Homo sapiens: one gene and its partners. The protein of the gene in region 1 purifies or fractionates together with the protein of each later gene. This does not show direct contact. Each region holds a gene or a part of one and is shown in the gene's direction. Other genes may lie near its edges. The genes, in order: SLC19A2, ENDOD1, TMEM63B and POMK.

What was found.
Region 2: the proteins of SLC19A2 (region 1) and ENDOD1 purify together in Homo sapiens (affinity purification with mass spectrometry; 2 studies listed by BioGRID and IntAct, with this or other methods). This does not show direct contact.
Region 3: the proteins of SLC19A2 (region 1) and TMEM63B purify together in Homo sapiens (affinity purification with mass spectrometry; 2 studies listed by BioGRID and IntAct, with this or other methods). This does not show direct contact.
Region 4: the proteins of SLC19A2 (region 1) and POMK purify together in Homo sapiens (affinity purification with mass spectrometry; 4 studies listed by BioGRID and IntAct, with this or other methods). This does not show direct contact.

The regions. Positions count from the first base shown.
Region 1 is NC_000001.11:169,468,945-169,475,970, reverse strand, and holds part of SLC19A2 (thiamine transporter 1), read left to right. Parts: intron 1-5,784; coding exon 5,785-6,007; intron 6,008-7,026. UniProt on the Homo sapiens protein: High-affinity transporter for the intake of thiamine. Mediates H(+)-dependent pyridoxine transport.
Region 2 is NC_000011.10:95,085,726-95,092,856, forward strand, and holds the start of ENDOD1 (endonuclease domain-containing 1 protein precursor), read left to right. Parts: upstream 1-4,120; 5' UTR 4,121-4,202; coding exon 4,203-4,502; intron 4,503-7,131. UniProt on the Homo sapiens protein: May act as a DNase and a RNase. Plays a role in the modulation of innate immune signaling through the cGAS-STING pathway by interacting with RNF26.
Region 3 is NC_000006.12:44,144,535-44,151,560, forward strand, and holds part of TMEM63B (mechanosensitive cation channel TMEM63B), read left to right. Parts: intron 1-2,312; coding exon 2,313-2,393; intron 2,394-2,842; coding exon 2,843-2,966; intron 2,967-3,717; coding exon 3,718-3,851; intron 3,852-3,978; coding exon 3,979-4,116; intron 4,117-4,257; coding exon 4,258-4,411; intron 4,412-5,324; coding exon 5,325-5,431; intron 5,432-5,689; coding exon 5,690-5,776; intron 5,777-6,029; coding exon 6,030-6,095; intron 6,096-7,026. UniProt on the Homo sapiens protein: Mechanosensitive cation channel with low conductance and high activation threshold. Osmosensitive cation channel preferentially activated by hypotonic stress.
Region 4 is NC_000008.11:43,103,491-43,110,516, forward strand, and holds part of POMK (protein O-mannose kinase), read left to right. Parts: intron 1-37; 5' UTR 38-58; coding exon 59-340; intron 341-7,026. UniProt on the Homo sapiens protein: Protein O-mannose kinase that specifically mediates phosphorylation at the 6-position of an O-mannose of the trisaccharide (N-acetylgalactosamine (GalNAc)-beta-1,3-N-acetylglucosamine (GlcNAc)-beta-1,4-mannose) to generate phosphorylated O-mannosyl trisaccharide (N-acetylgalactosamine-beta-1,3-N-acetylglucosamine-beta-1,4-(phosphate-6-)mannose).

The DNA.
Region 1 (7,026 bases):
GCTGATAATAAAGAACCATTATGAGTAAAGTCTTTCATTCTCTACTGAGAGTTAACTGAATTGTTTAAATGTGGCATCTAATGTCCTCATTGAAAATTACTCTCTTTTCTCTATCCCCGTTCTTCAGCTCTCAAATTACTACTTGAAATTTAGGTTATCATCCCAGAGAGCCTGGGTAGACTTGTAGAGCCTGGGCAACCCTCATCATGAAACTCACCTTGATTACCAGGGCACCTGTGAGCACTTTTTGTCAGAATGACCAAGGATTAAGTGGCAATGAAATGCTGATTTTTTTCATAGTTTGTTAGGTGATATTAGAGAGTCAACAGAGGGTTGATGGGGGAGGGAAGGAGGTGTGTAATCATTTCATAGATTTTATGAAGTGGAAAAAAAATAAAGACACTTCTTTATCTGTTTTGAATGTGTTACAGTGGCTTTAGCTAAAATTAACGTATATACAGATAATATGTGTATAAATATATATTTTAGATATTAACATATTGACCATAGTTCTAAAGATTTTTATAGACAGTTTCAAACTTTTTTGAATATAAGTAAGAAACATAGAAAACATTTTACATAGAAAACCTGTACATACATAGGTATGTATATATTTTATATATAACAGAAACAAGTTTTACAACAGTGTTTTATTCTGATACATTCTTTTATTTTTTTTAAATTCAGTTCACTGTCCTCTAAATCAATTTTATTGCCAACTTATGGGTGATGACCTATAGTTTTAAAAACTGTTCTAGATCAACTTGAAATACTTGTTTATAGATACACAGTGTGTCAGTATTTTATATACTGAAGAATTGTAGAATTTTAGAGTTAGAAATGACTCTAATCACAAGTCATAGAAAAAGCAGAGCATTTTAAAAAGAGATTAGATTTCATCAAGACTGTCCTTTTAGAGATAAGGATTAGGATCAGAGATTAGCAACTTATGCAGAATTGTACAAATATACTCTTGAACATAATTTAAAAGTGTGTATGAGATCCAGTTCTTTCTAAACCTTTCTCGGTGAAGTCTTTTAACTGGGGTAACAATGTCAGAACCATCATGTCAGTTACACTGTTTTCAGAATTAGGATTCAAGTCAGTTCCCTGATATCCTAGGCTCTGCTACTGATACCATAGCAGATGGGCAGTGCTGCTTGGTATTGGCACTGACTGGCCCTAAAATGCTGCTGTTTTTCTTTGGCAAGCATGAAGAAAATTCAGAATATGGATATTAGGGATCACAGAGCTATTTTAAGTTGACAAGACCTATAATTAAACCATAAATTATAATTGTGGTAATTATTGAAGAGTAGGTAGGTAGGTGGTTTTATCTTGATTTTTATAGAAAGAGAAAATGAAGTAAGAGGAGTCTAAGTGATAGCTCATTCTACAAGTTACCTTAGAGTATTTGTGAGTTATTTTTAAAGAGAGTCTATTGCATTGGGGCAAAGGGTGCTGATCTTGCAGAAAGAAGAACCAAAGCTGGTGACTTTCTTTTACAAGCAGAGCTGGATTCATTATGTAGTTGGCTGATTGGTGAAACTGATTTATTTTGAGTTCTTCATCTATTAGAAATGACATAAATTAAACCACTTCTTTAGCACAGGTTCTGACATGTAATTAATACCTAGTAAATGATTCTCTTAATATAGCCATGCTTTTATTTGTAGTTTGATATCTTTTACTACTAGTAAGTGTTCTTTCTGTGTCTGCATGTCTAAGGTCTCTAAACAATGACAACAGTGAAATTAATGCTTCCACTTTGGTATTAAATAATGTCATTTCTAGCAGCAGGGTGTAGTGAGTTACCACCTACCTCCCTCACCAAAACCCATAAAAATAAAAAACTACAATAAACCCTGAGAACCAAAATGAACGAAAATCTATTCGCTTCATTCATTGTGAGTTTTTAAGAAAGTGAAGTCCAAACCCTAGTTCTAATACTTGGGCAAGTTACTTAATTCTGTGAGATTTAGTTTCCTTATGTACATATCTACCTTATACAGTTATTTTGAGTATTTAAAGCTTTCAAATGAGTTTACATAGTAGGTTTCCAATAAATGGTAATTGCTATTATTACTATTATCATTATCATTACACGTGAATAATCCGGAACAGCTCTGTACTTTTATGGTAGATAGTCATGTATTTGTGAGGTTGTAAATAGAGCAATCTTTCCTTTTCTCTTTGAATTAATCACCCCTGGTCATCTTCATCATCATCATCATCACACCTCCTGTTTATTTTGACCTGGGTATCAGATACTGTGCTAAGAACTTTAGAGTCAGTATGTTATTTGATTCTTATTAAAACTCAATAATGTAGATATTTGCTCATTTTACAGAAGAGGAAACTAAATTTAGTTAACTGACTTGCGCAAAGGCACATAGGAAGTGGCACTTTAAAACTTTCCAACTCAGGCTGGGCATGGTGACTCACACCTGTAATCCCAGCACTTTGGGTGGGCAAGGCAGGCAGATCACTTGAGGTCAGGAGTTCGAGACGAGCCTTGCCAACATAGTGAAACACGATGTCTGCTAAAAAAAAAAAAAAAATACAAAAACTAGCTGGGCGTGGTGGTGCATGCCTGTAATCCCAGCTACTTGGGAGGCTGAGGCAGGAGAGTTGCTTTAACCCGGGAGGCAGAGGTTGCAGTGGGCTGAGATAGTGCCACTGTACTCTAGCCTGGGCAACAGAGACTCTGTCTCAAAAAAATAAATAAATAAATAAAATTTCCACCCATATCTAGTTGACTCAAAAACCACCACTACAGTAGAAACTTCCATTCCCTGATAGAGGGAAGTAATTGTTAAAGATTTTTAAATTTATAAAACAGCGTCAAAATCTTATGTTCAAATGAAATCTGAAACTAGATGCCCGTTATGATAAGTAAATAAAAATTGAGCCTTTCTGATTGAAACAGGAATGCAGGTCTGATAATTTTACATACTTGAGCCTGTTATTCATCCCACATGAAACTCTTAAAGCTCCATGGAACACAGTGAAGGCCACTTATTAAATTAGAGCATGCATGATTAACTATGAGCAGCTCAGAGTTTTGATGTAATAGAAATAAACCTTTGTTTGTAGATGTAATTTAACAAGAAACATAAAAGGTAATATGTCAAATGCTACTTTATAAAGTGTGATTCATATAAGCTTAACATTTGAAGCCTAGAAAACAGCATAGAAGGAAGCCTGCAGATTATAGCACGAGGTGCTGATTTTATAAACAGGACCTGCCATCTTTTCTTTTTGGCATGGCCAGATAATAGATTGAGTAGTTATTAACCTCTGTGTGTGGAATTCATTATTATGTAATAGATCTAAAGTTCTCAAATGCATTATACTGGGCATTATTTTATGTATGCCATGACTTTTTAAGCTATGCAATAAAAATAACACTAATTGAGCCCCTCTATAATAAATATATACATTATCTAGTGTAACTCTGTATAATCTTTTGTGGATAGGTTTTATTGTTATCATTTTCATTTTCTAGATGAGAAAAGTAAGGCTTTCTTATCAGTTTATGGTAGGATTTCTAATAGAAACTTGTGAATCCTTTTAATAGTTCCATTCTTCCAGGAATATACTTTCTTTTCTTATAATCCTTCCAGCATCCTTGAAAGTTTTAGATATCCCAGTTGTTTTCCAAGTTATATTGGTTAAGCAACTGAAGCTAAATAGTAAAATTCTGATGTAGTTCAATAAAACTGGTGGACCTTGAATAAAGACTTATGAAAATGTGCTTGGTACCATTCACTCACTCTTAGCAAATTCACATTATATATGATTAACAATTGTCTTGTGATTTGTTTAAATTCACAAGGTTTGCTCTCATACACAGTGCCAAGAAATCAATCTTGTAACAGCAGTATGTTGTACTTCTAGGTGGTTATCTTATGCAAATTCATCAAGTAGAATTTTCAAGTGTCGGTACTTCTTTCTCTGAGTTATTTTGATTAACCTCAGTACTCCTCCCTGAATTTTGGAAAGGGGCTGTAGTAATGGTACTTGAAGGATATCCCCCTCTGGGCTAAACAGCACAAAGAAGGAAGCACCACACTGGGGTTGCTTTGGGATGGTATGAGAAGGTAAAACAACGATGAAACTCGGATTCTCAGTCCAGTGAGGTTTTCTAGCCTCTGAGGGAGAAAATGGCCTTTATTTAACTAATGTTGATGGTCACTGTTACTGTATATAAGAGGAGAAAATATCTATTAATTTTATAAAAATGATATATATGGTGTGTGTGTATATATACACACACACACACACACACACACGTTTGTTTTTTGAGACAGAGTCTGTCTCTGTCGCCCAGGCTGGAGTGCAGTGGCGTGATCACGGATCACTGCAGCCTTGATCTTCTAGGTTCAAGTGATCCTCCCACCTCAGTCTCCTGAGTAGCAGGGACTACATGTGTACACCACCACACCCAGCTAATTAAATTGTGTGTGTGTGTGTGTGTGTGTGTGTGTGTGTGTGTGTGTGTGTGGAGACGGGATCTTACTATGTTGCCCAGCTTGATCTTGAACTTCTGGGTTCAAGCATTTCTCCTGCCACGGCCTCCTGAAGTGTGATGATTCCAGGTGTGAGCCACTGTGCCTGGCATCTACTTATTTTTTTAAATTAAATGTTACAGAAAGCTATATAAAAAATAAAAAATCACCTGAACTACTACCACCCAAAGATTAGTGAACTTCTTTTCAAACATCTCTTTTCCTATATACATATGTACGTATACATTTTATAGTAAATGAAATTGTGATCTACATGTAGTCTTGTAACTTGCTGTTATTTTACTCAGTGGTATATTGTACTCATCTTTCCATGGCTCTCATTTTGCCTTTCCATGTTAGCCACAAAAGTAAAATTTTCTGTGGGTTTTTTTTTTTTTTGGTAGAGATAGGATCTCACTTTCTTGCCCAGGCTGGTCTTGAACTCCTGGGCTCAAGCAATCCTTCTGTCTTGGCCTCCCAAAGTGCTGAGATTATAGACATGAGTCACTACACCCGGCCTTCCCATGTTCTGAGCAAGGCCCAGGGATTACAGTAACCTTTGGTAGATTAGTCCTTTCATACAGTTGAAATCAGAGATATCTCACAGAGTGTCTGACATCTCATATTGACTTCTTGGGATAGTGCGTAGCTCAGTAATGTCTTGCTTCACTCAATTATAAGCCCAGTAGCTTTATTTATTACTTTATTATAATACTATTTCTCATTGTTTAAATATTAAGTAATATAAAAAGTTTAAGGAAGAAAATTTAAATCACTAAGAACCCACCACCTAGAGAGAACTGCTAATATTTTGGTCTACTTCTTTCCAATATTTCTATCTTAACTGTTGGATCAGTCTGTCAATTATAACGATAGGAGGCCTTAACTGAATAGTGATTTATTAGGGTTGCTAGTCTGTTGCTTATTATTATTCTTGTTATGTTGTTTGCCAGTTTATGGGAGATGTAGATTACAGACTCCCATTGGCTGAAGCCTGCGGTCTCTTTTCATCATCTTCATTTTGTAAACAGTACATCTTTTGCTGGGTTGATTACATACAGCTGTGTTAATGCTATAGTGCATTTAAAGCAAAAATCCTATGAGAACATATTTTTCGCCAGAGGGGATAAATGTATTTGTTAATAAGTTTATGAAGTAAGCAGTTAGTTTTCACAAGGAAAAAAGTCTGTTAGGTAAGTAATTGGGCCTGTAAATTGCTTTCTATATAATTGCCTTCATCAGAGTTTGAGCATTGTTCCCTTTTGCTATGTAGGAACCCAAGCCAGACCGTCTCCTTGTATTGAAAGTACTATGGAATGATTTCCTGATGTGCTACTCCTCTCGCCCTCTTCTCTGCTGGTCTGTGTGGTGGGCCCTCTCTACCTGTGGCTATTTTCAAGTTGTGAACTACACACAGGGCCTGTGGGAGAAAGTGATGCCTTCTCGCTATGCTGCTATCTATAATGGTGGCGTGGAGGCCGTTTCAACCTTACTGGGTAAGCAATGCAGGATAATAGAGGGTCGTGGTGGGGGAGGGATTCCTCTGGTAGTTAAGCCAGCCATAATCAGATTTATTCACCCCTCCCAAATTTGAAATAGCCTCAAAAAATGATTATTTTGAGCTAGATTTTACAATTTAGGAGGACAACTTAGAAGTACTCAAGTGGAGCAGGACTATGACTAACAAACTGGAATTTTTTTATAAGCTTTGAGTAAACCTAATATAATAATTTTCAAGATTGTTTATCCAAGTTTCCATTATCTCTGTATTTACTGGGTAGTTTTGTCACTTGATGTGAAATTTTGAATGGCAATATATAATAGTTTATAACAATAGTATCTAATATTTGTTGAATGTTAATATGTGCTAGGTACTGTTCTATGGACATTATATACATTAACTCAATCCTCACAAAATTCCTGAGATAGGTAGAATTTATCCCCATTTTGCAATGGAAACTTGGGACTGGTAGGTTAATAACTTGCTCAAGGTCATATGGATGGTAAGTAGTAAAGTCAAGACTTGAACTCAGGCAGGATGGCTTCAGAGCCTGTGTATTTGACCATCTTACTCTATTGTTCATTTCTAATTTGTTGACCTACCTCCTGAGGTTGTTGGATGGTGTTATATGATTTCTGTAAACACTTATTATCTGTCTTGGCCCTCAGAAAACACTTCATAGATTTTAGCTATCCTTATCATCATCACTGTTTTACCAAAAGGCAGAGAAGCCCTTTTGCCATGTTCTAGACTGCTCCTTGGTTTGAAGGAGAGATGACTCATCCTGCCATGATGCCAAATTAGAAGCTATGGTTCTTTTTGACTCTTGCCTCTGCTTCAGCTGCAGCATTTTTTTTCCTTAGCAATGTCCCTGTGTCTTTGTCCTGCATTTTCATCTCATTGCCACCTCTCCTAATTCAGTCTGTCATCTCAGTGGCTCCATTTTATTGATTCCATCAAGTTCAGAAATTTCTGTGTGAGTTTCAAGGCCCTCCATAATCTTGAGCTATTCTG
Region 2 (7,131 bases), on another chromosome or scaffold:
CAGCTAGACTATTGGGAAAAAAAAAAAAGCTAGATGAAATGAGTGAAGGGATGAGAATGGGTGGTGAGAATTCCAGGACAAGGGAAGTAGTTTATGATGCAAAGTTTCAAAGACTAGAGAGAGCATCAGGCTGAGTTCAGTGGCTCAAATCTGTAATCCCAGCACTTTGGAAGGCCAAGGCAGATGGATCGCTTGAGCTCAGGAGTTCCAGACCAGCCTGGGCAATATAGCAAAACCCTGTCTTTACAAACAATACAAAAATTAGCTGATGTGGTGGCACACGCTTGTAGCTGCAGCTACTAAGGAGGGTGAGGTGAGATGATCAATTGAACCCATGACATTGAGGCTGCAGTGAGTTGTGACTGCACCATTGCACTCCAGCCTGGGTGACAGAGAGACCCTGTCTCAAAAACAAAACAAAAGAGAGAACACTGTGCATTCATGGAAATATAAGAAGCTGAGCGTGTGGGCAAGGTGGGAGTGGAGAGAGATGAGGCCTGAGAGGGAAAGGCCAGGTCTCTGGGGTCATGGAAGTCAGCTAGTATGTCAGGCTGCATCCCAAGGTAAATGGAGAGTGATTAAGTGCTGTAAGGGTAGGGTGACATCATCAGATTTATGTTAGGAAGTCATCCCAGCTGGAGAGTGGATTAGAAGGGATGACGGGATAAAAACTGGGCATGACAAATGAGGATGGCTTGGTCAAAGGTGTGATGGTAGAGATGCAATTATCATCAGAGCAGTGAGGCAGGGGAAAGAAGTGTCTAGTTGGGCTCATATTTTTAAATAACTTTGGACAGAACCAACCAAGCCACAGAAGTGCATGTCAAATGTTTTATTCCACATCAACCATTACTTTTCATCCTCAAGCCTTTGCTGAAGGCTATGGAACCCAGCTTTGGCTGGGTCTGAGTGCAGAGACCTAAGAGGATCTGGTTTGAAACCTCTTTCCCTGTGAGAAGAGAGTCAGTGACCAAATGTAGAGACAGCAGTGAATTATTGATGGACCTACATGTTTTACACATACAGATGCTGCTAAAGACAGTTTTCCCCTAAAATCAGCAGTTAGCAAATGTTTTAATTAGATCAAGGCATTCCTACCTTGTAGGTTGTTCCAGAATCTTGGGGTGAGAACATTTGTAATTTGCAAAAGTAATATTTTATCTGTGGAAGGCAAGCACATGGAAGAAAAATCTATTGTCTTGTACTATAAACTAAAGAAAATAAACAAAATCATCCTGGCTGTGGGATGTACAAATGTTCAGTGTTATATGTGTGTCAGTCACTGATAGAGGGCTGGGGAAAAAACTAAAGTCTGCCACAGGGACTGAGTGGCAGAGATATTTATGCTTATCAGAGGTGGCGGGCAGGCATCAAGAAATTTTGAGAAAGTGAATTAAAGTCTTATAAATACTTTAGTCATAAAGGCCAATGATGATTGTATTATACTTTCTGCATTTGTTAAAATACAACATAATCATATTTGGCATCTAATCACTCCAGATTTTGTGGTAGCCACTGGGATCCACCAACCACCTTTGTCCCTAGGAGCACATGATTTAATAAAGAAGACAGATACAGGGACTATTAACACTCTACCATGATAAGTATCATAACAGATAAATGTTTAAAGAACTCAGAGAAGAGAGGGATGGATTTCTAGTTGTTCAACTGTGTTTATATATCTTTATGGTAGACATCATAAGTCAACATTGGGGAACCCTATATTCAACCTTATAAAATAATGTAAATATTTTTAAAATCCTGTAAAACCTATAATCCTCCCAGCATCCCAGGAGCAGCATTGTCCCTGTGGGAGGACTTGATTGAAGCCTACAAGGATGAGATGACTGAGATACTAGTACCAGATGATCAGGGTCATCATCCAGATCAAAGGGGACTTCAAGTCTAGCCTCTTCTGTGACATCACACTAAATGTGTCCCCTCCTTTTTTTAAAAAAACTAAGATACAAACTTTGGTTTCATTTCTGGGACCAAACATAGTCAACATTTTCCGGAATTAAAACCTGTAAGAAATTTGTTCTTAAGTTCCAATGTATAATCTCTTGAAGAGCTTCCTTCTTTATGGGCTCACCTTACAGATGCGCTGTGAGTTAAAAGAAAAGGCCAGGCTTGGGAAGCAGAGAGACCTGTTTCAAATCTGTCTTAGGACTCACTGGCTGTGCCAGCTTAGGCCAGAATCAACAGGCTCTGGTCTCAGTCCCTGTAGTGGCACACTGGGGAAACAGATGACATCGTAAGATGAGCACAGGCCCTGGCCCTGGGTAGCTGCCTTGACCCTATCTCTGCTGCCACCATCCTACCATCCTGGTCCAAGCTACCATCTCTTATCTGGATTGTGGCAATTATGGGGTGTTTTTCTTTTCTTTTCCTTTTCTTTTTTGAGACAAAGTCTGGCTCTGTTGCCCAGGCTGGAATGCAGTGGCACAATTTTGGCTCACTGCAACCTCCGCCTCCTGGGTTCAAGCGATTCTCCTGCCTCAGCCTCCCAAGCAGCTGGGATTACAGGTGCCCGCCACCACACCCAGCTAATTTTTTTGTGTTTTTAGTAGAGACGGGTTTCACCAAGTTGGCCAGGCTGGTCTCAAACTCCCGACCTCAGGTGATCCGCCTGCCTCAGCCTCCCAAAGTGCTGGGGTTACAGGTGTGAGCCACCCATTTATTCTGTGCCACTTCAATCTACCAGTCTCTTCCCTGATAGCAAAAAGAATCGAGTCACCACCTTTAAAAGATGAAAATCCTCAACATGATTTACAATATTTTTTCCAAACTGCAGGTCATGAGCCATTAGTGGCTCATAGAAACAATTTAGTGGGTCAACACCAGCACTTTTTTAAAAAAGTGAAGTAGAACAGAAATATGAAATTGCAATGCCAATCATAAGCATAAGAATTATTTCATCAAACTTTTCTCATTATGGGCCTTCTCAAAAAGTGTTTGAAGGCCTCTGGCCTATAATAACCTGAGTAATATGACCCCTGCCTCCTCCTTTAGCCCCACTTCCCATCATCCCCCACGCGGTTCTCCGCGCTTTACCCACACTAGCCTTCCTTAAATTCCTCCAATACATCATGTTCCCTTCTGTGGGAGACCACTTAGCACATGGTTTTCCTCCTTGCCTAGTTAATGTCATCCTCCAGGTCTCAGCTCAGATGCCACTTCTTCAGGCAAACCTTCCCGGATTACATCCTGAACCCCTGTAGCTGTCAGGGTCTCACAGATCTGTGTTCAGTTTTTAGTTATCCCTTTAATAGCATGTTTCCTCGGTTAATGACAAACTTTCCCACTAGGCTGTCTTTGTGACCGCAGGAGCCCTGCTCTTGTTTACCCCTGTGGTAATCCAGTGCCTATCTCAGGCTGGCACCTAGGCATTCAGAGGGATAAATGAAGGAAAGAATTGGCCAACCTGTTGACCAATGACGTTGGCTGGCCTCCTTCCTTGCTTGGTATCGGTTTTGTTTCTAACACTTGCACCAAGAAAACCACACAGGGTTATACTGTCTGCCTAGTTTAGGAACTTCCTTTAACAGTATTTCTTTACTCTCTGAGTTTCTGGTGAGCTAAAAAAACATAACAAAAAACAAAAAACTCCATCAAAATTGTATGCGTGTGCTGGTCGTTGAGTACTTCGGTGGAGAGTGGGAGACGCATCTTCATGAAATTTCAGAGGGGAACTCTGCCCATCCACTCCGAACCAGCCGCAGCTCCACGAGCATCTCACGCCACCCCTCTGCATCACCAGGGCGGCCGTGGGGCGCGCGCGATCAGCAGGCTTCTTGGCGCCCAGTCCATGCGACTATCTCTTCCCAGCCCCGGGACTAGGCCCGCCCCACTCGGATTCTCCACTCTTGGTAGCGCGCGTCCCCCGGACTGCTGAGACCAGGCGGCGCGGAGGCAGGTGACCCGCGTCTCCAGTCCCGGGCGCAGCCCAGGGTACGTTGTCAGCATCGCGGAGCGCGGCCCTGGGCCTCTGCAGCCATCTTCAGGGAGGGAGGCGCGGCCTCCCGACGCGGACCCGCCCCCGCCGCCCGGGCCGCCCCGCCCGGCTCCGCAGAGCGCCGCGCCTAGGTTGCGACTTCCCTTCCCTACCCTGCTCGGCTGCGTAGTGCGCTCCCCGCCCAGCCTGCAGAGCTCGCGCCGCGGCAGCCCAGCCGCTCGGCCCCGCCGCGCTCGCAGAGGCCGCCATGGGCACCGCGCGCTGGCTCGCGCTGGGCAGCCTCTTCGCCCTGGCTGGGCTGCTGGAAGGCCGGCTCGTGGGCGAGGAGGAAGCCGGCTTTGGCGAATGTGACAAGTTCTTCTACGCCGGGACCCCGCCTGCGGGGCTGGCGGCCGATTCCCACGTGAAGATCTGTCAGCGCGCGGAGGGTGCTGAGCGCTTCGCCACCCTCTACAGCACCCGGGACCGCATCCCCGTGTACTCCGCGTTCCGCGCCCCGCGCCCTGCGCCCGGCGGCGCCGAGCAGCGATGGCTGGTGGAGCCGCAGGTAAGCGAAGTGGTTCCCGAGCCGGGCTGCGGGCGCCGGAGACCGTGCCGCTGGACATGCCCCCAGTTGCAGCTACCGCGAGGGGCGGGCCGGGAACAGCAATCCCTACGCCTTCGGTGCCTTGGGCCAAGAAACCCGGGTTCCAGGTCCACCCTGTTGCGTCCCCGGAGTTAGCCTGCCTCGCCCCTGTCGAGCTACAATAAGAGCCTGGCGATCTGCGAGCCTTCACTTCATGAGCTGCAGGGCGGGAGGTCCCCTGTGGGAGGAGGTTCTCCCTGCATTTCTGAGCAGACATCCGCAGTGTTTCATTCCTGAATGGTGAAGAGCTTGATACAGAGACCCTGGAGACCGTTCAGATCCGCAGAAAGCCTAGGCTGGGCGCTCACAGGCCTTCGTGCAACTTATTGCCATAGCACTCATTTGGAGGTGGGTAGGTGGGCATTTTCATCCCCATTTTACAGAAGAGGAGATAAACCCAGGGGGTGAAGAGACATATGGAAGACTACCCAGTTAGTAAGATGGGGCAGGTCTCTGTCTAGAAATTCACTGCCTTTTCTACTAAGTAAAGCTTCTCTTCTGCAGAGCTCATCCTAGCCTGAAAATCCTTCCTCTACCACGGCGTTGAGTAAATTCGATCTGCGGTTGTGTTGAATTAGAACAATGAAATAAAGATACAGATTTTTAGAAACGCAATGGGGTAGTTAAAAATGATAGGGAAACATTGACTACCTCCAACTGATGGAAAGATAAGCCAGTTTTTCCTGACTCCTCATATCTATATTATCATACCACTAGGAAATCGTGTCACCTCTCATGGTGTTCTGTCCCGTCTGGTAAAGGTGACCAAACACTTGAGAAGCCCTCAGAGTCTTCCGAACCTGCTGGCCTGCTCTTAATACCTCTCCTCAGTTGGCCTCCTCTCTAGAACACCCTGCCAGACTCCCCTTTGCCCTCTCACCAGCCTCCCACCCCTGCCCAGGCTGCTGGGGGAAGAACTGACCCAACGCTCTCCCTTTCCTGACGGCCACAGCTGCCCAGGACCACACCAGTGGACAGGAGGCTGGCTTTCAGGTGCTTTATTCAGAGCCTGTGGGTTGTAATCTCATTCAGATATTTCTAGCTCTGAGGTCTTGGCCAGGTCTCAAACAATCTGCACCTAGTTTTCTTATCTTCCTCACATCCTTCCACCTACCTCAACTGTTGATAACACTTGTCGAGATCAGGCATGTGAAAAAGACGTTGTCAGTTGCACACACAAGACACATTTAAATCCAAAATTAGTTTTCCACCAGCTGCACCCCTAGAGCTCACAGGGTGTTCCCCACCTCTCATCTTGCATTGTGATTGTGTGCCTGCGAAGAAAACAAATGAGCTAGTTCTTTCCCCTTGATCTCATGGACAGCTTGGGGAGACAGAACATACGTCTGAGGAAATCATGGGAATGGATGCTAAACAAATTTCAGTTAAATTCAGAACACATTTAGTGACTCCTGCTGTGTGCCAGATATTTGGGACCAAGAGATCTGAGTGCAGTTCTGGAACAAAGGCTACCTGATCTGCAGGTGGAGTTTGCTGGGTGGAGAGGTGGTGTAGTATCTGATTAGAGCCATGCTATGTGGGTTCATATCCTAGTTGCTCCACTGACTAGCTATGAACTTGGGCAGGTTAAATTGGAGATAATAGCATAGGGTGGTGTGAAGATTTAATGAGTTACCATATATAAAGTTCTCAGGTGTGTGACACATGAGTACTAAGTACTAGCTGTTGCTATGACCTAAGCAAAAAACCATAATTTAATAAAGGTGAACAAAGTCCTATTAGATTTAATCTGTCTTTGAGGTGATGGAAGCAAGCCTTAGGGTCAGGATGACATTTCTGCTGTGTGTGGAAAGATAAGGCAGAGTTTAGAAGGGAGGCAAGGAGGAGGACATTTCAAGCAGAGGGAACAAACATCATGAGTGAGAAAGGCATGGCAGATTCAGGGATTTGTGCGTGAAGAAGTTGGAACAGGTAAACTAATACAAATAGATGAATGCACTCAATTGCTCAGAATAAAAAGGAATCATGGAAGGGAGGGATCAGGTGGGGAGGAGCCACCAAGGAAGGCTTAGGGAGGCAGAGCCATTTATGCAGCTAGGGAAGGAGTGAGTCGTAAAGGAGCATAGTTTGACAGAAAGAAGTACAGGGAACCAGGTAACATGGAGACCCTGGGTGAGATAATGAGGAAGGGGACTGTGGAGATTAAAGAAGATGGGAAGGGAGGGTGGAAATAGTTACAAATGGCAGCTTGAGAGGTAAGATGTACAGCGGTTCTGAAGAGTACAAGGGGCCTGAGTTCCTGCTGTGCTGAGAGGTCAGAATGGTCACTGTGGCTGAGCACTGCAGGATGCTTTTCCCTGCAAGGTGGCTGGCCTCCCACATCCACCCGCTCGACCTCAAGTCAAGTCAGCCAGGATCCAGAGAGTATTGGGAGAGAGGGAGGGAGGAGGAGGTGTGAGGTGCAGCTGGGCCTGGAGTGCACTGCAGCAAACCTGCCCCCACTGTTGCCTGCTCCCTGAGGCCCTGCCTCCCAGCCAAGATCCCCACTGCAGAAAGATGCTCAGGGCTCAATGTGTACCCTTGGCGGCTT
Region 3 (7,026 bases), on another chromosome or scaffold:
ATACTTTAGAACAGTAACTCATGCATTCAATACTTGGTGGTCCTTCATTTAAAAAAAAAAACAATTTTTTTTGAGACAGAGTCTCACTCTGTCTCCCTGGCTGGAGTGCTGCAATACAGGGGCGTGGTCATAGCTCACTGCAGCCTTGACCTCCTGGGCTGAATCGATCCTCCTGCCTCAGACTCCCGAGTAGCTGGAACTACAGGCACTCACCACCACACCTGGCTAATTTTTTTTTCTTTTTTTAGAGACAGGGTCTCACTATGTTGCCCAGGCTGGTCATGAACTCCTGGCCTCAAGCAATCCTCCTGTCTCAGCCTCTCAAAGTTTTGGGATTACAGGCATGAGCCACTGTGTTCAACCTAAAAATTTTAATAAAATATAAAAAGATGGGGACTCAGTCTAGATTAAGGATTAGGATCAAAGAACAGTGCATGATCAGATTTAAAAACGAACTACTGGCCAGGTGCGGTGGCTCACACCTGTAATCCCAGCACTTTGGGGAGCCGAGGTGGGTGAATCACAAGGTCAGGAGTTCAGGACCAGCCTGGCCAAGATGGTGAAACCCCATCTCTACTAAAAACATAAAAATTAGCCAGGCGTGGTGGCATGTGCCTATAATCCCAGCTACTGGAGAGGCTGAGACAGGGGAATCACTTGAACCCAAGAGGTGGAGGTTACAGTGAGCTGAGATTGCACCACTGCACTCCAGCCTGGGCGACAGAGCAAGACTCCGCCTCAAAAAAAAAAAAAAAAAGCTATTAGGCTGGGTATGGCAGCTCATGCCTATAATCCCAGCACTTTGGGAAGCCAGGGCGGGCCAATCACCTGAGGTCAGGAGTTCGAGACCAGCCTGGCCAACATGTTGAAACCCTATCTCTACTAAAAATACAAAAAAAAAAAAAAAATTAGCCGGGTGTGGTGGCACACACCTGTAATCCCAGCTACTCAGAAGGCTGAAGCACGAGAATCACTTGAACCCGGGAAGCAAAGGTTGTAGTGAGCCCAGATCACACCACTGCATTCTAGCCCGGGTGACAGAGTGAGACTCCGTCTCAAAAACAAAACAAAACAAAAACAAAAACAAAAACGAAACAAAAAACAAAAAGAAACTATTCCCTCCAGCCATGGTGGCTCACTAGTGTAATGCCCACACTTTGGGAAGCTGAGGCAGGATGATCACTTGAACCCAGGAGTTCAAGACCAGCCTGGGCAATACAACAAGACCCCATCTCAGAATATTTGAAACAAACAAACAAACAAAAAAATGAACTATTCCTTCACTCAGCAAGCATTCTTCAAGCCTTGCCTGGTACCAGGTACTAGTGAGTCAGTGCCAGTTTCTCTCTGGTCAGTCTTAAGTCAAGGTAAGGATGAATCTGGGGTCAGGGTTAGGAGGTCAGTCTTGGGTCTGGGCAACAGGTCTGGGGTCAGTCTTTGGCCAGGGTGGGCTTAAGGGTCAGTCTTTGGCCAGGGTTACAGGTCAGTCTCACCCTGGTCAGGGGTCAGGATCAATCTCTTGTCTGTCTTGGGCCAAAGTTAGAGATCATTTTGTAGACTGGGTTATGGGTTGGTTGAGGTCAGTCTGTGGTCAAGGCTAAGTGTTGGGCTGTGACCAGGTCTTCTGGGAACAGGGTTAAGGAATTATATAGCCTATGACTAGATGCAATTTTTTTCAACCTAAAGGTCACAGCCCTGGACAGGAATCAGACCATAGCCCTGGCTTCCCTACCTGCATGCAGTATGTCCCTACACATCCTGGTTTGTTAGCCCAGCCTGCAGTCACACAGTGCTCAGGCCTTCTGCTCCCACTTCCCCACTCAGATAAGCATGAGGAGGAACTCCAAAGCTTTATTCTTGGGGAACTCTCAGTTTTGTAGACTAAGAAAAAGGCAGCTTGAATTGGAGATGTGGGTTTTTTTGTCTTTTTTTTTGAGATGGAGTCTCGCTCTGTCGCCCAGTCTGGAGTGCAGTGGCGCGATCTTGGCTCACTGCAACCTCCACCTCCCGGGTTCGAGCAATTCTTCTGCCTCAGCCTCCTGAGTAGCTGGGACTACAGGCACGTGCCACCATGCCCAGCTAATTTTTGTATTTTTAGTAGAGACAGGGTTTCACCATGTTGGCCAGGCTGGTTTCGAACTCCTGACCTCAGGTGATCCTCCCGCTTCGGCCCCCCAAAGTGCTGGGATTACAGATGTGAGCCACCACGTCCAGCCAGAGATGTGTTTCTTGAAGGTGATGGGGTCATGGATGAAAGTCAGGGGCAGGTGGGTGGGGTCCCTGCACAAGATGATACATGAACTGTGTTTCAGGGAAGCCTACCCCAACTGCACAGTTCTCGAAGCCCGCCCGTGTTACAACGTGGCTCGCCTAATGTTCCTCGATGCAGAGAGGTAAGGGACTGGGGGCAGAGGAGGGTGACACCAAGGGCCCCCTGCCATTGTGGAGGACATCTTGGCTACCACACAGGCTCCCCTTCTAGATTTTTTCCTAGGGCATTTGATTTTAATTCAACTCGTTGGTGTGCCTGTTAATTCAGCTCTGGAAAGAGCAAGGCCTGGAGGTTAGAGTTTGTTGTGAGGGGAAGGGGGGCCCATGGTCCCCACTGCATCTGAGGACATGCCCTTCTTTGGCTACAGTATGAGAAATTTAGGTCAGCCTGCAGGAAGAACTTCTGGCCCTCTAGGGATGGGTGGGGAGACCTTGGGATGTGGCCACATCTGAAACATGTATCCTAAACAAGAACAAGACAGCTCCTGTCCTTGGGGAGTGAGCTAGATGACCCCCAAGCTGAGCCAGCCCCAGCCCCAGATGTAGGTGACCAGGCATCTGGGTCCCACAGGAAGAAGGCCGAGCGGGGAAAGCTGTACTTCACAAACCTCCAGAGCAAGGAGAACGTGCCTACCATGATCAACCCCAAGCCCTGTGGCCACCTCTGCTGCTGTGTGGTGCGAGGCTGTGAGCAGGTATGACGCGGGCTGGCTGTTGAGTCGGGAGAAGTTGGACAGGTCCTGGGCAGGCAAGGCTGGGGCCCTGCCCTCAGTGAGTCCCCACCTGTCCCTGGAATCCTTGAAGCCTCAGTTCCCACTGTTGGGTTTGTCTAATGTCCCTACAGTGACCAGGTTTTCAAACCTCAAATTAGAAAATGTCAGCCAAAAGGACAATGTTGTGCTGTACCCACTGACTCTGGGGACTTGAGCAAGTTGCTTACTGCTCAGTGCCTCAGTTTCCTCATGGGGTTAACGTACCCACCTTATGAGAGTGTTGTGAGGGTAAAGTGAGTAATACATATAAAGAAGCTTAGAGGTGCTGGGTGCGGTGGCATATGCCTGTAATCCCAGCACTTTGTGAGGCTGAAGCAGGTGGATCACTTGAGCCAGGAGTTTGAGACCAGCCTGGGAAACATGGCAAAACCTGATCTCTACAAAAAATACAAAAATTAGCCAGGCATGGTACTGCACACATGTATTCCCAGCCACTTGGGAGGCTGAGGTGGGAGGGTCACTTTAGCCTGGGAGCTTGAGGCTCCAGTGAGCTGAGATTCCACCACTACACTCCAGCCTGGGCATCAGAGCGAGACGCTGTTTCCAAAAAAAAAAAAATGCTTAGAGGAGCAGTGCCTGGCTTGTAGGAAGCCCCAAGTCAGCGTGGGCTGGATGCTGCAGGCCCCAGCCTGGCTTTCCAACTAGAGGCCCTGTCCCTAACCCTCCCACAAAGGTGGAGGCCATTGAGTACTACACAAAGCTGGAGCAGAAGCTGAAGGAAGACTACAAGCGGGAGAAGGAGAAGGTGAATGAGAAGCCTCTTGGCATGGCCTTTGTCACCTTCCACAATGAGACTATCACCGCCATGTGAGTCCCCAACTCGGCCCTCGGCCCTGAGCAGCCCTCCAGGGCTCCCTGACCCCTGTGCTCATGGCCTTCTGCCAGCAGTGTGGCCTCCAGGTGGGCCTGTGGTAACCAGTGCCCATCTTTCTAGCATCCTGAAGGACTTCAACGTGTGTAAATGCCAGGGCTGCACCTGCCGTGGGGAGCCACGCCCCTCATCCTGCAGCGAGTCCCTGCACATCTCCAACTGGACCGTGTCCTATGCCCCTGACCCTCAGAACATCTACTGGTGAGCAAACAGGTGTCAGGGCAGGCTTTCCAGGGCCTGGGATGGGCTCAGTAGGTAGGCGGAGGAGAGGGAGTGTCTTGGTGTCACTGGGGGCCAATCCTGCCCTTGGTTCCTGGACTGACCGGTTCCCCACCTTGCCAGGGAGCACCTCTCCATCCGAGGCTTCATCTGGTGGCTGCGCTGCCTGGTCATCAATGTCGTCCTCTTCATCCTCCTCTTCTTCCTCACCACTCCAGCCATCATCATCACCACCATGGACAAGTTCAACGTCACCAAGCCTGTGGAGTACCTCAACGTGAGGCCTCATGCCCCTGTCACTTTCCACGCTGGGTCACAACACACAGATACCAGGCCCTGATCCCTCTTCCACTTGCCCAGCCCAGCCCGTTCTGCTTGTTCCAACCCCGTGCCACCAACCAGCTCCCAAAAACCCCTGTGTGCACTTCCCTTGGGCTCCCTGCCACCTTCCCCCTGAGAGAGGCCACCCTCAGGTGTGCAACACCTGGAGAAACACCCAGGGAAGAGAGAGAGCCTGCATTTAGTCCTGATCTCAGAGAAGTCCCCTTCCCTCACCCCTCAGTCTAACTGAAAAAATGGAAAGGTTCAACTAGATCAGTGGCTTTGGACTTGGATTCTGATCTCTTTATCGGTGTGAAACCCAGTGTGGAAAAGCAGGGCTGCTCCGATGACAGTAGGGTGGCATGCATGTCTGCCTGGCCTCCCCTCACCTCTCCTCCCACGCATAGAGCATACCTCTTTAGAACCTCAGAGTTTGAAGAAGGACAGTTTGCAAATCACTTGGAGTGATAATACCATAATAGATAAGACCCAGACTGCATGGATTCAAATCCCTACCTCATGGCTTGCTAGCTAGGGAAGCTATTGAATCTTTTTTTTGCCTCAGTTTACTCATCTGTCAAATGGGGTAACAGCATTATTGTGAGGATTAAGACATGGCAAGTACATCAGCACTGCTTAGAACATAGTAGATGTTCAGCAAATGCTGACTATCAGTATTATCCACCCTGGGGTTATACATATGGCCCTGGCCCCCACCCTCACCCCAGCCCTCCGGATGTTCTGGGCTTCCAACATGGGAGCCCTGAGAGTTGTGAGGCCAAGGGCCCAGCTGGGGAGGAGGCACATAAGCAAAGCCACCTGGGCCCCCTAGACTGCCCTGCCTGACGCCCCCCTGTGCCCTGCTGCAGAACCCCATCATCACCCAGTTCTTCCCCACCCTGCTGCTGTGGTGCTTCTCGGCCCTCCTTCCCACCATCGTCTACTACTCAGCCTTCTTTGAAGCCCACTGGACACGGTAAGGTGCCTCCACTCACACCACACCTCGCTGTGGCCTGCCCTCAATGACCCATCCTCTCTGGGCAGCACTTTGCCCTTCAGGCTCCTGGCCCTGGGCAGTCCCACAGCTGGTAGGGAAGGGGTAGTGCCCAGCACCCTCACCTTGGGAGGCCCACCCTTCCCAGGGGACACTCCTTGGACATTGTCCTTGTTGGGGGAGCAAGTCTGGGGCCTGGGCTCACTTGACCTGTACCGTTCCCTGCTCCCCTCCCTCCAGCTCTGGGGAGAACAGGACAACCATGCACAAGTGCTACACTTTCCTCATCTTCATGGTGCTGCTCCTACCCTCGCTGGGACTGAGCAGGTGAGTTGAGAAGGATGGGGCAGGAGCCAGGGTAGGGGGACAGCAGGATAGGGAGAGGAGAGCAGTTCAGCCTCCCTACCTCCCCTACAAAGCAAGGGGCCCAAGATGGGAAGCCTGGCCACCCCCAGGCCTCCTGAGCTACCCACCCCATGTCTGGGAGTCTCCCCAGTGGCTCACAGAGGAGGGACTTCCCCTCCCCTGGTGTTCTGTACCACTCCAGCTCCCACCCCATCTCTCCTCTGCTTCCCTCCAGCCTGGACCTCTTCTTCCGCTGGCTCTTTGATAAGAAATTCTTGGCTGAGGCAGCTATTCGGTTTGAGTGAGTGACTGGGGCCCCTAGGGAAAGAGACCAGACAGCAGGGGTGGGTATGCTTGAGAGACATTGCCAGCCCCATGGGAGGGTGCAACAAAGCTTCCAACTCCTGGAGGGGGCAGAAGAGAGAGGATCTGGCGGGGTTACCCCAAAGGCACCCACAAGGTGTCTTGGGTGTGTATACATGGTAGAAGTCCCTGGGGTCTGTGTTGGTGTTCACTCTCTGGTAACCTGTTTGGATGCTAAGATCATCCTCAAGGTATATTTGGGGCTTGGGGCTCCACATTCTGGTAGTTTCTATGGGGGTGTCTTGTGCCCATATTCTGGGACTAACTGTGGGCGTCTCTGGAGTTCCACTTGGGAGGTTTGGGGAACCATCTCTAGGGAGGTCTTGGTGATACTTAGGGAGTGTCTTGGAGGCTACTAGGGGTATCCCTGAAGGTCTCTAGAGCCCATATTTTTGGGTATGTGTAGGAGGCTCTTGACCTTATAACTCTGGGGGTGTCTGTGGGCGGGGAGGCTAAAGGACTCACACTTTGGGATGTTTAGCAGTACAAGTTCTGGGAACATCTCTAAAATTTCAGGCTTTTATTCAGAGATGTAACTGTGGAGTTCTGTATGGGCATCTTCTCTGGGAATCATGTGAGGATATATTGAAGGTCATGCACCATGGCTGTGGGCACAAACTCTAGGGGTTTTGCTGTAGGCCATCTGTGGTGATCTTTGAGTCACACTTGGGGCATCTCAGGCACTGATAAAGGTTCCTGGGCTCCCCCAGAGATGTTGCGGGAAGGGTCTCAAAGCTTGTTTGTGGAGGTATCTGAGGCTCATGTCACACTCTGGGGGTAACTCGAGTTATGGTCTAAGTGGGGGAATCTTCTGGGTGTTCCTGGGGCTGTCAGCCTTTGGGTTCTTTGAGGGTCTCATTGGGTTGTCT
Region 4 (7,026 bases), on another chromosome or scaffold:
TGACTGTCATGACTTCTTGTTTCATTGTGTATTTTAGGAAATTGCAGAGGCCGTCAACATGGAAAAGCAGCCCCAGAACAGCAGGAGAGGCCTCGCCCCCCGAGAGGTGCCGCCAGCTGTTGGGCTGCTGCTGATCATGGCCCTGATGAATACTCTGCTCTACCTCTGCCTCGACCACTTCTTCATCGCTCCTCGACAATCCACTGTGGACCCCACACACTGTCCCTATGGTCACTTCAGGATAGGACAGATGAAAAACTGCTCACCTTGGCTGTCCTGCGAGGAGCTGAGAACAGAAGTGAGACAGCTGAAGCGTGTTGGGGAAGGAGCTGTAAAGAGAGTGAGTCCGGGTTCATTTGCGATTGCTGTCATCCTGTTATTTCGCTTAACACAGTGTCCTCCAGCTCCATCCATGCTGGCACGGATTACGGAATTTCATCCTTTGTTACTGCCAAAGTGTACTCCATTGCATATGTGCACCACATTTGCTTTGGTTGATTCTGTATCTTGGCAATTGTGAATAGTGCTGCAGTAGGCATAGGTTTCAGCCCTTAGGGAAGCAGTGTGGCATCCAGTGTTAGGAGCCCTGCTAGCTCTACGTTTTTATTGTTGAGCTCAATAATCTTACATCTGGCACTTTATCTTTTTTTTTTTGAGAGTCTCGCTCTGTCACCCAGGCTGGAGTGCAATGGCGCCATCTCGGTGCACTGCAATCTCCACCTCCTGGGTTCAAGTGATTCTCGTGACTCAGCCTCCCGAGTAGCTGGGACTATGGGCATATGCCACCACGCCTGGCTAATTTTTTAATTTTAGTAGAGATGGGGTTTCACCATGTTGGCCAGGCTGGTCTTGAACTCCTGACCTTAAGTGATCTACCTGCCTCGGCCTCCCAATCGGACTTTATCTTAATAAGTAATCCAAGGCAGGAAAAAAGTCAAATGCATAAAAGAGTGCCATAGTGATAGAAAACTAGAAACAAAACTTTTAGAATAGTTCATTAAATGATGGTCCATCCACTTGACGGAATATTCTGCAACTGTTGTGTAGTTAGGAACCCCAAGAGGCAACATGAATAAAACCTTATGATGATAAGTGAAGAAAACAAGATATAAAATTGTATAATTGACTTTTCAACTGTGAAATTACGTGTATATGTAGATAAATACAAAAATGGTCAGGCGCAGTGTCTTATACATGTAATCCCAGCACTTTGGGAGGCGGAGGTGGGCGGATTACTTAAGCACAGGAGTTCCAGACCAACCTGGGCAACATGGCAAAACCCAGTTTCTACAAAAATACAAAAATTAGCCTGGCATAATGGTGCGCACTACTTGGGAAGCTCAGGTGGGAGAATCTCTTGAGCCTGGGGAGTTTGAGGCTACAGTAAGCCATGATCTTGCCACTGCATTCCAGACTGGGTGACAGAGCAAGATGCTGTCTCCAAAGGAAAAAAAAAATATGAAAATGATAGAAATTGTGCTAGGGTGAAAGGGGGATTATGGGCAATTTCTTTTCCTGTTTTTCAAACTCTGTGATGGTATTATACTGATTTTTAACAATTTATTTTTAATTGGCATGTAATAATTATCCATATTTATGGGGTACACAGTGATGTTTCCATACCTACTTACAGTGTGTAGTTAGCGGATCAGGGCATATCTGCCATCTCAAACATGTATCACTTCTTTTGGTTGGGAACATTCAATATCTTCTCTTCTGGCTATTTGAGAGTGTATAATATATTGTTAATTATAGTCATCCTATGGTGCTATGAAACACTGGAACTTGCTTCTCTTATCTAGCTGTAATTTTGTATCCTTTAACAAATCTCTGCCTATCCTCGCCTTTGCTCTACCCTTCCCAGCCTCTAGAAAACTGTTAGGCTTTTTACTTCTTTGAGTAAGCTTTTTTAAACTTCTGCATATGAATGAGAACTTGTAGTGTTTAACTTTCTGTTCCTAGTTTATTTCACGTAACATAATGTCCTCCAGTTCCTTTCATGTTGCCATAAATGACAGATTTCCTTCTTTTTTATAGCTGAATAGTATTCTATTTTGTGTATATATACCACATTTTCTTTATCCATTCATCTGCTGAAGGACACTTAGGTTGATTCCATATCTTGGCTATTGTGAATAGTGCTGCAATAAACATCGGGATGCACATATCTCTTTTTTTGTTGTTGTTTTTTGAGACGGAGTTTCCCTCTTGTTGCCCAGGCTGGAGTGCAATGATGCAGTCTCGACTCACTACCACCTCCACTTCTGGGTTCAAGCAATTCTCCTGCCTCAGCCTCCTGAGTAGCTGGAGTTACAGGCATGTGCCACCATGCCCGGCTAATTTTATATTTTTAGTAGAGATGGGGTTTCTCCATGTTGGCCAGGCTGGTCTTGAACTCCTGACCTTGTGATCCACCCACCTTGGCCTCCCAAAGTGCTGGGATTACAGGCGTGAGCCACTTAGCCTGGCTGTGCATATCTCTTTGATATATTGATTTCCTTTCCTTTGGATATATACCCAGTAGTGGAATTGCTGGATCATATGTTAGTTCTGTTTGTAATTTTCTGCGGAACCTCCATACTGTTTTCCATAATGGCTGTACTAATTTACATTCTCACTAACAGAGTATAAGCGTTCCCATTTCTCTGCATCTTCACCAGCATTTGTTATTTTTTGTCTTTTTGATAATGGCCATCCTAACTGGGGTGAGATGGTATCTCATTGTGATTTTGGTTTGCATTTTCCTGATGATTAGTAACATTGAGCATTTTTTCACAAATTTATTGGCCATTTGTATGTCTTCTTTCGAGAATGTCAGTTTAGATCATTTGCCCATTTTTTGATCATATTGTTATTTTTTTCTGTTGAGATGTTTGAGTTCCTTGGATATTGATCCCTTGTTAGATGAATAGCTTGCAAATATTTTCTCCCATTATGTAGTTTGTCTCTTAACTCTATTTGTTTCCTTTGCTGGGAAGAAGGTTTTTGGTTTGTTATAATCCCATTGGTTTACTTTTGCTTTTTTTTTTTTTTTTTTTTGACTGAGTCTTGCTCTATCGCCCAGGCTGGAGTGCTGTGACATGATCTTGGCTCACCGCAACCTCCACCTCCCAGGTTCAAGAGATTCTCGTGCCTCAGCCTCCTGAGTAGCTGGGATTACAGGCGCCCACCACCATGCCTGTATTTTTAGTAAAAATGGGGTTTCTCCATGTTGGCCAGGCTGGTCTTGAACTCTTGACCTCAGGTGATCCGCCCTCCTCGACCTCCCAAAATGCTGGGATTACAGGCATGAGCCACTGGGCCCAGCCCTCAGTTATAATTTTGCAAAGGCGGTTTCAATCCCTCCCTTTGGGGTTTTGTAGCATCTTATTCTTAAGGTGTGGGCTATGAAGATGGAAAAAGGCCATTGATCACTCTAGCTTCTTCATGCTGACAGGGGGCATAGTTGGGGTCGGAGTTGACCCTAAGGTGAGAGGAGTAGAACTGCTTTGCAGCTGTCTGAGTATATTCATGCAGGCCGGGCTGTGGTTCCAAGGCTTTCGTGACAAAGGCAGTAGTATCTTTATAGTTTTAGTACAGCATTTAAACAGACAGTCTACTATAAGGTAAATAATGAGTTTTAGGATAAGGAGTGCAATTTCCAGTTTTAAAAGTAAAGGTTTGAAAGCATTAGTCTGGGGACTTATAGTCCACAAAAATATTAGGATTTAGTCTAAATTGAAGAAAAAAAAAACTAACAACATGTGTACCATAGTTTTTGGAACATAATTTTTCTCTCTTTAGTCCTTATTTTTATTAAAACAAATCACGATAGGACTGATTTGTTGGCAAAATAAACTTTAATTTTATTATGCTTGGCCTGATTATTTGCATAAAGCGCATCAGTAATACTTTTTTTTTCCGAGATGGAGCCTTGCTCTGTCGCCCAGGCTGGAGTGCAGTGGCGTGATCTCAGCTCACTGCAACCTCCGCCTCCCGGGTTCAAGCAGTTTTCCTGCCTCAGCCTCCTGAGTAGCTGGGATTACAGGTGAGTGCCACCACACCTGGCTAATTTTTGTATTTTTAGTAGAGACAGGGTTTCACCACGTTGGTCAGGCTGGTCTCGAACTCCTGACCTCGTGATCTGCCTGCCTTGGTCTCCCAAAGTGCTGGGATTACAGGCATGAATCAGTAATCACCTGGCAAGAATACTTTTTTTTTTTTTGGTAGAGATGGAGTCTTGCTCCGTCACCCAGGCTGGATTGCAGTGGTGTGATTGTGGCTTACTGCAACCTCCGCCTCCCGGGTTCAAGCAATTCTTCTGCCTCAGCCTCTCGAGTAGCTGGGACTATAGGTGCACGTCGCCATGCCTGGCTGATTTCTTTTGTATTTTAGTAAAGACGGGGTTTCACTGTGTTGCCCAGGCTGGTCTTGAACTCCTGAGCTCAGGCAATCCGCCTGCCTTGGCCTCTCAAAGTACTAGGATTACAGGCATGAGCCTCTGCGCCTGGCTAGAATAATTATTTTTTACATAGGCTTTTTAAATTGCCTTTGATGGAACTCTGTTCCATAAGGAATCTCAGATAAGACTTTCTAAAGCTGAGTCCAGCCATAGGTTTGTACCTTCAAATACTTATGAGTTGGGTAAGTTCCTCTCCTCTTGATGCCCCTAGATAACTTGGGGCTCCTGGGCCTGTCAGAAAGTGACATTCTATACTTACCATGGGTCAGGAACCCTGTACAGGGACTGTGTAGACAAAGTATGAGCTCAGTTTTCCCAAGGGCTTTTACTGGCTTTACAAGTACAAGTCAAGGTTGATTCCATAAAGGAAAGCATGCCATTCTAGTCAAACCCTTGGTAAAATAACCAGTGTTTTCAATAGTGTCCTGTTACAAAAGAAAACAGATTCTTATTGTATTTATGAAAATAACTGTATTGCCATAAATTAAGAATACTCACAAATAGTTTTTAAATTCTGGAGAAATCAAGTAGAAACAAATATGCGCCAAATTTTATTCACAGGAGTGTACTTTACTCAGTTGCTACAAGCTGTAAATAGCTTAAAAGAAATTTCCCTGACTCTGAAAAAGCAAAGAATCAGCAGCATTTTAAACAAAAAGGTTACTTCAGACTTTTATTAGTTTAGTCCATGCATTTAACTTCTGTTTGATATTTATGAACATTTCAGCTTTCCATGAGAGTTCTAAAAGTTTTTTTCCTTTATTCTATGTCATAATCTCCAGAGTTATCAGAAACTTGCATTCAAGAGCACATATCAAAGTTTTATAGCTGATTATAAAACCATCTTCTAAAGAGGACCAAATTAAAACAGCAGTTATCTTTGGATGAGAAAAGCATTTTAGGGAAGCCACAAAGACACAATTAACAAGGAAATTTGTGAATCTGTGGCACACAATAATTCAACACAACAGTTATTACTGATGACATATACTGAGTCATATCAGAATTGTAGGAATTTTATACAGTTTTGCAGCACGTAACTTTATATCACAAATTTATATGAATATAACCCAAAGAAAGTTAAGCACCATTTTCTATTTGACAGTGTTTCCTGCATGATTTTAATACATTAAATAAGCTGAATATGTCTTTTGTACTTTAGGGGACTTAATTTTTAAAAATTTTTTATTTTAACTTAGAGCTTGATTTTGAAAGGTTTGTTAAATACCAAACGTTTAAAACATTGGATATTACAAAATGGAGTCTTAGGTTTCCGTAAGTCATTCATTTAGCCAAAGTAACTCAAAAATTTTCAAAAGGAAAAACCATTATTCTGGTAGGAGACTCAGCTTTCCAAACAAGACCCAATGAAGGTAGCATGAGGCTGATTGCCTCCTCTCTCTCCCCTCCCCCTTTTTTCTTTTGTAGTTTACTTAAAAGGTAAATAAAAACCTTTCATTATCTTTTAATATTCCATAAAAATCCTTTTTAAAAGAGAAAACTGAATTTTATGTTTCCATTAGTGTATTTTTAACGTTAAAGCCAGTTTTAATTACATCTTATAAATCTGTCTAGTTCTAATTAGTTTGACCATAAGGTAAGATTTTTTTTTTATTTTTTATTTTTTTCAAGACGCAGTCTCTCTCTGTTGCCCAGGCTGGAGTGCAATGGCATGGTCTCGGCTCACTGCAGCCTCCATCTCCTGGGTTCAAGTGATTCTCCTGCCTCAGCCTCCCGAGTAGCTGGGACTATAGGCATGTGCCACCACACCTGGCTAATTTTTGTATTTTTAGTAGAGACAGGGTTTCACTATGTTGGCCAGGCTGGTCTCGAACTCTTGACCCCTTGATCTACCTGCCTCAGCCTCCCAAAGTGTTGGTATAACAGGCGTGAGCCACCACACCTGGCTTGCCATAAGGTAAGATTTTTATGAATCTTTTATAACCCTTTACAATTTTGTTTTTTTCTTAGAACAAAACTGTTTTAAGAAAACTCTGTTGTGCTTTTATTCCAATTTCCAATTTATGGAAAAACTGCATAACGTGACTTAAACTTTAGCCAATATGTTCACACACAGAATCTCTTACAATTAAGTTTTTATAACCCTTTCACAACTTGTTCAAACCTTTAGACTTTTCCTATCTCATTTAAAACAGTCCGTTAACACTCTAAACTTAGGCAAGAAATCCACATTCCCATGCCTTCTCATAATCTTTTACCAAAAGTACATTTTACTTCCCTTACATGCCTCGTGTATAGAACTGTTTCTTCAGTAGTCTCAAGTGCATATTACACTGTTAACTCAATGACTTTTACTTTTGGTGGAAAGCCTGGTGAGTAAGCAATTTCAATTACGTACCAGGAGTGGAGCCTAGGACACCAGAAGGTCTGACTGTTTCCAGTGTAGCTAGGGAGTGTGGCTAACTCCACATGTCTCAGGCCTTACCTAGCTATAAAGCAGGCAAGTTGTACAGTAAGAGTCATAGTGGCATTTTATGAAGTATTTAACAGGCCTAACAACCTTTGAATTGTACAACATTTCTTGCATAAATTGCCTTTTCATGAATACGTTCACAACTTACAGA